Regions from separate parts of the Homo sapiens genome. Here region 1 is linked to region 2. Evidence: fine-mapped expression QTL. Tissue or cell type: prefrontal cortex. Region 2 holds a variant in brackets; the other region holds the start of a gene. All regions are shown on one strand. Distances are between the middles of the regions.

The links. PIP is the estimated chance that this variant, and not a neighbour inherited with it, causes the effect.
Region 1: AMDHD1 starts here. The variant in region 2 is fine-mapped to the expression of AMDHD1 in prefrontal cortex (CommonMind, PIP 0.92).

Annotation. Positions count from the first base shown.
Region 1 is chr12:95,940,760-95,945,963 of GRCh38, reverse strand. AMDHD1 (amidohydrolase domain containing 1) reads right to left here and starts at 2,633. Exons shown (of 9, transcript NM_152435.3): 1 at 2,429-2,633. The coding sequence starts at 2,565. It overlaps CCDC38 (coiled-coil domain containing 38), which reads left to right and starts at 3,350. Exons shown (of 16, transcript NM_182496.3): 1 at 3,350-3,533.
Region 2 is chr12:95,988,380-95,993,379 of GRCh38, reverse strand. HAL (histidine ammonia-lyase) reads left to right here. Exons shown (of 21, transcript NM_002108.4): 9 at 575-700; 10 at 2,848-2,987. Among named protein-coding and RNA genes, the nearest start is that of HAL, 5.5 kb to the left of the region's middle. The variant G/C (reference allele first, on the strand shown) is at 2,489.

The DNA.
Region 1 (5,204 bases), 48 kb after region 2:
CACTGAGATATTTATTTTTAGGAAGGGGGAGTTTCTGGTGTCCCTCAAACCATATTCTTTTCCAGGACTCATTTTATATATCTATAGCATATAGGGGATTAACTATTAGTTGATCTTACTGAGATTCATTCTAATCAGGACACACCATGGTATGTATATACTTGTTGGGAAAAAAAAAAACACACACTGTTAAAATCCATCCAATTCTGGGCTTTGAAATGGAACTTTCTTCCACTTCTCTGTGCTTTTAATCAGTACCCCTCTCCCTATACACACTCACACTCACAGCCTGTGTTCTTCTTGTCTACCAAAAGAAGAGCAGGATTAAGTTGTCCTTGAACACACAGGTTCTGCATAAGGGAAGTGATGTGAAAATTTAAGACAATCACCTAAATAATTCACCCTGAAAACACTTTTACCTTAAAACATTCAGATAATGAGGTGGGAGATATATTTCAAAGCATCTCAAATAACCAGATAATTATTCCAATTCTATACTTGATTTTTGCACCAACCTAATATATAAGACAGTGATGATAGTAAGTGAAAATAAAAACAACACCATCCTGTACCGAGCTAATCATATTTGAATGGCAAAGTTCTCAATATTCTTGTAAATTTATTTCATTGTAATAAATCCAACAAACTGTGAGAACAATGTAGCAGACTCAAATGAAAAAGCCCCATCTTCCAGACCACAAGTCAGCTCCCTCCTTTTCCTTTCCCTACTTTTTGTGGTTTTGATGTGAACATAGAACATGTCTTGGAACCCAGGACTTCATGTTGGTGCATTAGTATCATTTTATTTATGTATTTATTTATTTATTTTTGAGACAGAGTCTCGCTCTGTCACCCAGGCTGGAGTGCAGTGGCGAGATCTCAGCTCACTGCAACCTCCGCCTCCCGGGTTCAAGCGATTCTCCTGCCTCAGCCTCCCGAGTAGCTGGGATTACAGACGTGCGCCGCCATGCCCGGCTAATGTTTGTATTTTTAGTAGAGATGGGGTTTCATCATGTTGGCCAGGCTGATCTCGAGCTCCCAACCTCAGGTGATCCACCTGCCTCAGCTTCCCAAAGTGCTGGGATTGCAGGCGTGAGTCACTGTGCCTGGTCGCATTGATATAATTTTTATAAGATACTCCAGTCCCAACCCAGGTACATATTTTTCAACTTTCTAAGCAAAATTTTAAATAATATTTTCATAGTAAATTGGGAATGTTTTCATCCCTTAATTAAAAATAAACCAGTCAAGCTGGGCGTGGTGGTTCACGCCTGTAATCTCAGCACTGGGAGGCCAAACCAGGTGGATGGCTTGAGCCCAGGAGTTCAAGACCAGCCTGGGCAACACAGTGAGACATTGTCTCTACAAAAAATACAAAAATTAGCCTGGCGTGGTGGCGTGCACCTGTAGTCCCAGCTGCTTGTCAAGCTGAGGTGGGAGGATGGCTTGAGCCTGGGAGGTGGAGATCGCAGTTGAGCCTGGGAGGTGGAGCCAAGATCATGCCACTGCACTCCAACCTGGGCAACAGAGCTAGACCCTGTCTCAAAAAAACAAAAAATAGGCTGGGCGCAGTGGCTCATGCGTCTCAAAAATAAATAAATAAATAAATAAATAAATAAATAAATAAATAAATAAAATTAAACCAACCCACAGTCCCTTAAAAGCTGGGCTCTTGCACAACCCTAAACTGCCTCAGATAAGCCGTGGTCAGTTTGTGAGACTCATTGATCGTGTGCAATTGTGGTCCCATGGCACGCTTTGGATTCAAATTCTCATCCAACTTCCCTTGCTACCCCAGGTCGCCCTCAAACTTTGTTCTTTTATTCATATCTGGCAGGAAGCTCAGATGAGTAAGAGAAATATCTTGTTTTCTGATGGTCAAATCTTGATTTATTATCACTCAGGGCCATTATCGTCTAAATGTTCTCCGTGGTTCTAAAGCTTTAGTGTACGAGATCACGAGGATGTGAAAGGTACTTTTGAAAAATTCAGGTCTCAGAACTCCAGCCCCAGTGATGCTGATTCTAAAATTCTAGGGATAGGGAGTGGGGGACGCAGGTGGAATCAGAAATCTGCCGTAAGAATAAAATAACCACAGGCCACCCTGACAAAGGTGGTCTTCTGGCCTCCCTTTAAGAAGCACTGGGGAGGACCTCAACCCCTTCTGATGGTTGGACAGTGATATTTTACCAGCAGAGGCAGGACCCTGATGCGTTCCAATGGGGTGTTCCTCTCTGAGCTCTTTGGACGGAATGACAACCCCAAGCAGCAGAGCGTGTTAGCAACAGGTACCCCAAAGGCTGGCTTGCCCGTGTATCTCTGTGCAGGGACGCTTTCACGGCGTTGTTTCCCTCCAGAGTGCACAGTGAGAGGAAGAGCGGCCAGCTCCGCCCGTGGCGGTCCCCACCCTGCGCGCCCGGCCACTTACTTGCCCACCACCAGGCTGGCGCCTTCCAGCACCGCCAGGCTGCGCAGCGCATCCCGCGCCAGGAAGCGCTCGCCGCGGGCGCACACCAGCACCACTTGCTGCGCGTTCTCCAGCAGGAGGCTGTGGCCGCTTGCCATGTCGCCTCGCGCCGAGGGTCGCCGGGAGGCCACCGGGCTCGGGCCACCGGCAGGACTCAGTGGAGGACGAAAAGCCGCAGCCTGCGCTGTCCGGGGCTGGGAGGGTGGGGCGGGGGCGGGCGCTCGCAGCCGCTGCCCTTTGCTCGCCTCCCCCAACCACAGCAACGGGGGCGGTAATCATTGCAAGAATGGCAACGAGTAATAAACCTGATGAGGAATCCTCTCTTTTTTGGTCGTCTTGTCCCATCCCGAGTAAACGAGATGGAGACTAGTGTCCCTACTTTTCAGATAAGGAAACTTAAGCTTGGTCACCCCGAGAGATCAAAGTGAGCTGTGTGGATCACGTGGTATGTGGAAGCGCGTCAAGGGTTGGCTGGGTGAGGGCACCCGGAGTGTTCGGGAGTGAGGGACCGGAACCTGGGGTAGAGCCCCGGAAGGGGGGCCATGGGGGAAACCTCTGCCCGGGGGGTTGGGGTGGGAGCCTGGAGATAGCGCTCCTGGAGAGGGCAGAGTAGGGGAAAGCTGTGCCCAGGGGCAGGGACGGGAGCTTGGAGGTAGAGCCCCGGGAGAGGACAGAGTGGGGGAAACCTCTGCCTAGGGTGCTGGGACGCGAGCCTGGAGGCAGAGCCCCGGGAGGGTACTGCGTGGAGGAAACATCTGCCCACAGGTTCTGGGGCGGGAGCCCGGGACGCGGAGGGCCGCGAGCCGAGGGAACCTGGGGGTGGGGAGGAGGGGGATGCGGTAGGGGAGGTGCTCCTGGGTCCGCGCGGGTGGCGGGTGCCCCGCACTTATCCGTTGGCCAGCTGCGTTCCGGGATCAGCTACCAGACGGTCCCTGAGATGACCGGGAACCGGGCTGGGGGAGGATAGAGCCGAGACTGGAGGATCGATTGGCACCTCCGCCCACTTTTCCCACAACGCCTTCCCGAACGATAGGTTGGAAAGGCTCCTGGATCCAAACTCGCTGAGGTAAAATAGGTTTCAGCTCAGTGTCCGCCCCTCCGCATGCCCCCTCCCACCCCTCAGCTGTGTCTGGTGGGCCTACAAGCAACTTGCGACCAAAATTGGAGACAGAATCAAGTTTATGGAAGATGGTCTGTGATTCTCAGCCTCGTCGCTTCCTGCTACCAATTGCTATGGAAACACTGCCAGGCCCAGGCTTTTGAGTCCTTAATTACTTGATTTCGTTTATTCATGTTTATCACAAGCTCTGTGTTAAGTCTTGTGGAACATACAAAGATAGGAAAGGCGCTTTCCCTGCCCAGTAAAGACTTTACAATAAAAGTGATAGATGTGGACACAAATAATATACTATAAAAGCAGACTAAGCCTGCAAACCCACAAAATATAAAAGTTAATTTAGTCTCATTAAAAAAACCTGGAACAGAAAGCAAACACTCCTTTAGATGACCACGATAAATAAGAATATAATTTAGCTTCATATTATGGCCTATAAAAGAGAGATCAGTTAGGAAAGAGAAAGATAAAAATTGGAAAATATATAGACAATGTGAGTGAAAGAGACCCTAAGGGTGGGGGGGAGGGGGCATCAGAAGATTATTCACAGCTCATATACACAATCACAAACAGGTTGTTTGTGTGTGTGTGTGCATAGCTTTTAAAAAGTTTATACATACATATATTTCTATGTCTTTAAAAAGAGAAGTAGAAATAGTGGGGAATAGAAACACATAAAGTCACTAATTCACAGAGAAATATTAAAATTTTCTATTATAAAATTTCTGCTGAAGACTTTAATCAGTTACATTTTGCAATTTTAGGCATATTTGCAGAACTATGCAATTGTATGTATAAAGGATGGGTTAAAATTATAGAAAAATAGGGTTCAATAAACTTGTCTTAGTCTGAGTTCTGTTTCCTATAAGCTGTTTGACCTTGGGGAATTTCTTTACAGTAATTTCTCGAAGCCTCGTTTTCTCATCCTCATCATAGGGAGAGCTGTTTCTACTTTATGGGCTTGTCTGAGTTTTAAATAAAATAAAACATAAATCACTTAGCCCAGTGCCCAGCTCTAAACAAGTAATAGGTATTATTACTATTATTCGTGTGTTTTAATCCTGCTATTTGTCTTCCTGGCCAATTAAGTTAAAGATTAGATTTCAGCCAATAGTATAGTTCCTCTCCTGACTTCACAGACCATGTACTTAAAGCTTGCAAGTTCTGGGTGAGTCTAAAAGAAATTATATTTCTTTTTCATAGGTATTTATGTTTGTGGGTGAACTGTGCATCTGATTCACAGTCCAGACAGACAACATTACCTGATAAGCTCCTGCAAACAGGAGGTTTGCAAAAGCAGAAAGGATGAGTGAATTTCTTTCCTTAGTTACTGTTCAGTAGTTATAGATGGATAAGGATGACACATTTTTCCTTGGTAATAACCAACATCCCGATAGCAGCTCTTATAAAATACTTTTCACATTATCTGACTTGTATATGCTGACTCCTTAACCCATCCTTCCTTCCTCTTGACCTCCAGTTTTTTTTTTTGTTTGTTTGTTTGTTTTTTTTCACTTCGCAAAAGGGGCAGTCAGAAATGTCAACAGAAGCGTCCATACTAAATAGCCTGACGCCAGCAGTGCCTTAAAGGTCAAGGTGAAAGTAATTTCCTCATCATTGTGC
Region 2 (5,000 bases):
ATCCAGTTATAGTCACAAAAAGCTAGTTTCTCAAAACAGCATTTCAAGAACTAGGTGCCGAGGTGAGAAGGGATGCAGAAAGAATCAGCTGAGCCTCAGAAAAAGAAATGGGCCAGGTGGAGGGATGGGGTTGGTATGAGAACACATGTCCCATGCCATGGAGACACTGTTGCATTCAGGGAAGGAAATAAAGCCTGGAACTCAAAGAATGAGTTAGGATGGGCATAGTGAGATGGGAAAGACTGTCACCAATCAGCACCCATCAGATGGTAAAGAAGTTGTGCTAAGGACTCTGGATGCTATTCTAAAGGTGAGTGGGAGGTCAGGGGTTCACTGAAGCTTCCCAAAAAGGGGAATTGAGAAGGCAAAACTGGGGTCTTAACCTTTGTCAGGAAGATGGGGCTCAGACAAGTCAGACAGGCAGGAGGGAGAGTAGTCCAACTACCTGAGCCGAGAGGAGAAGGTAATAGCAGGCTGGGCTACATATGGGAAAGATTGGAGGGAGGGAGGGCAATTGTCAGGAGACAAAAAGGAGTTTGCTTTTCTTGGAGAAAACATCAATTCTGTTTTGCAGGTGTTGGGAAACCACTAAGTCCTGAGAGGTGTCGGATGCTCTTGGCTTTAAGGATCAATGTCTTAGCCAAAGGATACAGTGGCATTTCCCTGGAGACCCTCAAACAAGTCATAGAAATGTTTAATGGTAATGCAATGGCTCCCTAGACGGAACCTCTGTGGAGGCTGGACATGTACCACAGGGTAGAATTGATTGGCCAGATGCTGAGGAATCACCTGAGAAGACATGAAATAATTGAAATGAGTGGGAAATGCCGTTGGCAAAAAGTAGGATAGTTAGATGGGGGAAGAGGAGAAAGTCGATCAGAGATGCTTACTCCTATGAACTTTAACTTATTCTGCAAGACCCTTTCCCTAGCATTTGTCATCTTCAAGACTAGAACAGGACTCTTAAGTCTGCCCTTACATTCAAGCCTGCCTAGAAGAAACTTGGATTAAGTGGTACATGAATATGGTTAGAAAAATTGCATGATATCAATGTCCATCCCAAAGGCCAATTCAGTAGTTCTGGTTGGTGCCTGGGAATCTGAAATCGTAATGTCCCCCAGGTGATGGCCAGACTTGCACACTAAAATCCAACTTCTTGCAAGGGTAGAACAGAAATGCAAAGAGGTTAATGACTCCCTTGTAATCAAGAAGCCATGTAGTGGCAGGATATGAGGGAACTCAACTCTGGAGCTTTCTTCTTGGATAGGAAAATTCTAATGTGGAAACCAGATTTGCAGTGATTGGAGGTATTGTCCCTTCTCACAGGTAAGGACAAGCCTTCTAGGTCAGTGGAGACTCAGAACTCTTTGAGGGGAAGGAGAGGGAGGAGAAGCAGTGCTGAGGCAGTCACAAACAGCAAAACACATTCTTGAGTTTCCATGTTATGGACGCAAGTGGCACGTGAATAGGATCTGCCAATGAGTGGAGAGCAATTTCAATGAGCAGTCTATTGTATATACAGGGCTGTGCTGAACAGACTAGTAGTGATTCCAACACCTATTTTTACTCCTACCTTGGTCTGCCATACTATATAGCCCTAAAATCCCAGATAGTAGCACTCCAACCTTAAACCCACCTGTACTTTATGGGGGAGTCTAAGGCACCTCTGAGAATTCCCCAGCGTGAACTATCAGCCAGAAGTTGGTCTGTGGATGGCACTGCCATACCCGACTGACATTATTTAACAGTTGGAAAAAATGCTGCTGTCAGGAATCTGATTTTATTTCAGAAAAATGAAGCCTCTTTTTTGGTAACTTTTTGGGAATTTCTTAGAAAATGGCACGTGTTCATTGATAAGGGGCAGTGGAGTGTAGACTGGGTGACTGGCAAAATGAAAAGACTCAGTTGCCTATGACTTCTCTTCCCCTGGGAAACCTTGTTAATGCTTTGGTGCACCACCTCCTTCTGGAACATTTTATATTACTTTTCCAATGTTTCCAAACATTTTCCAATAGCTGTGAATGGCTAAACTTGGTCAAATGAATGTCCTTTAATTTCATATTTAGATAATTTCTAACTATTTTTCCTATAATAAACAATGAACTGTAAAACAAAAACAAAAACAAAAAAAAACAGCTAGTTCCTGATCACTTCTTCAAGATATATTGCTAAAATTTCTACAAGTGGAAGTACTAGGTTGAATTAGAGCACACAGATTTTGAGGGCTTTGCATCCAGAAGTGTCCTCCTTCCTTCTTCTTATTTATTTAGGAGACAGGATCCTGCTTTGTCACCCAGGCTGGAGTGCAGTGGCACAATCTCGGCTCACTGCAACCTCCACCTCACGGGTTCAAGTGATTCTCCCATCTCAGCCTTCCCAGTAGTTGGGACTACAGGCATGCACCACCATACTTGGCTAATTTTTGTATGTTTTGCAGAGACAGGGTTTCACCGTGTTGCCCAGGCTGGTCTTGAACTCCTGGGCTCAA[G/C]TGATATGCCCGCCTCGGCCTCCCAAAGTGCTGGGATTACAGGCTTGAGCCACTGCGCCTGGCCCTTCTTTCCTTCTTGCTGACTTTCCCTCCAGCCCTCCTTTCCTCCCTGTCTCCTCTTTACCTTTCTCTCTTCTTCCTCTCCACCCCCACTCCTCTTTTTCTTTCTATAACAATTCATCCAGGTCCCTTACATATTAGCTGGGTTTGAAGAATTGTCTTTCCCCAGGTATCTATGCCATAAAGTGATAGATATTGGAGGCAGGGTGTTTGCGGGGGCAGTGGGGGCACTCACTGGCAAAGCAAGGAGAGTCAGAATGCAGTACTCTTGAACTAATTGCTGCCTACTTCTCTCCCAGCCTCCTGCCTGCCCTATGTCCCAGAGAAAGGAACCGTTGGTGCCAGTGGAGACCTTGCCCCACTCTCTCATCTTGCTCTTGGGCTAGTTGGAGAAGGGAAGATGTGGTCTCCGAAGAGTGGCTGGGCTGATGCTAAATACGTAAGACTCGTAGCAGCTTCTATCTGCAGCAATTGCCCCAGGTTGGACACCAACTGTGCTTGCATGCTTCGTATCACCTAGTCCTTACAACAGCCCAGTGAGGGAGCTCCTACTATCCTTACTTTACAGATGAGACAGCGAAAGCTTAGAAGTCAGACTAGGCAAGACTGTTGTTAGCTTCTATACTCGGCTGTCAGCCTTCTGGGTTTGGTCATCACCTTGGTGAAAAGGCATAACTGCTACTGTTAATCCCAACTATTTATCCTGCACCTACAACATTTCCAGTGCCTAGCAGGGAGGTCACACACTCTCACAATTTTAATTACGAGCTGGTCTCACAGGTGCAGTGGTATGGCTCATAGCACTTACTATATGGCTTCTGGAAAGCAGGTTTCATTTTTCCCTAAGCTCTTACCCTAGTGGCTAATCAAAAAAGCCTGTTTTTGATAAAGCTTTGGTGTTTTCTTCATCTGTGTCTGAATTTCATTACAGCAGCATAAAGCATCATTTAATGTATCATCCCTGATGAACTGCTGGGAGCTTCCCTGATAGTAAGTGAAAGGGGTAGAGGGCCCCAGAAGAGGAAACAGCTAAGGAAATAGATAATCCTTTTGGGGATGCAGCTTCTAGATCATCTGTCTTCCGTGCAGGCTTGTCTTTGATTATTTCACTATGGACAGCGTTTTCCTCCGACCACCCTCATACAGCAATCACCCTGACCTTTCTAAACAGCAAATTCAAGCATGTTCTGGTGAAAACTTGTAATGCTTCCCATTGTCCTCAGGATAAAGGCTAAACTTAAAGTGGCTTTCAAGGGTCTTGTTTGTCACATTAGCCCCTAATCCCTTCTATGTGTGGTTCTGCATTGCAGAAACTGGAGGTTGCTTGGAGAAGGAATGTTCTGGGCAGAGGGTCTGGTACAAATACGTTCTTCTCTCTCCTATTTCTGCTTCTGAAACATCTTCTAGGGATCTTTTGAAGCCAGAAGTTCAAGACCAGCCTGGGCAAGAAAGCGAGGCTCCGCCTCTACATAAAATAATTAAAAAATTATCCTGGCACAGTAGCATGTGCCTGTAGTCCCAGCTACTCAGGAGGCTGAGGATCACTTGAGCCCAGGAGTTCAAGGCTGCAGTGAGCTAGGATTGCACCACTGTGCTCGCTCTAGCCTGGGTTACAGAGACAGGTGTCTAAAAAATAAAAAGAAAAATAGAAAAGCCCTCTAAGAAGCTTCCGTCTCCGCTGCTCCACTTCCTACCTCTCGAGTTCCTTGTGACCCTCCTGTATGCTCTCCTAGCAAATGATTGTTTTCCACTGCACCCCACCCACTTCCCACATCCTCAAGCACTGAATGTACTATTACTCAGATTGCCCTGAGCTTGCCTGTCTTCATTTTGCCTACTCCTAGACCGACCCCAACACCCAGAACAGAATCCAGCCTCTAGCTGATACTTGAATCTGTGAAATTGACGTAGTAAATGGGACCAGCTCTGTCCTTCTCTTACCTTAACTTCCCCTTCCTTCTTTCCTAGAGAGACCTTAACTTAATGACTCTCTACTTCTTTTCTTTCAAGGGAAGATTGTTCTGCCCATCGCCCCCTCGGGATTCTGTCTCCATCTAGTAGAGGGAATTTTATAATCCCCTCTTCATTGGTGCTCACACATGTGCCACAAAAACCCTGCTCTGAGGTTTTGCCAGTATTTAAATGAAGCACTAATGAGGTTAGAGGACTTTTTAGGTCAAGCTCTGGAGGCAAGGGAGCGTGAACTGGGAGGAGTCCAGCCTGAGCACAACACAGATGCATGTATGTGTGTCAGATGCCTGCATGTCAGGAGGCAGTGGTAAAAAAGGTGAACTGCTAAGGTAGAAACTGAACACGAAGGACGTAGAAACCAAAATTTAGGGTTGATTCTATAGACAATGGAGCCCCTGATTTCAGTACAAAAATTAATTGAAAGATAAGTCTGCTTTCATGACTAAAGAACAGAACTAGAGAATAGACCAGAGAACATGAA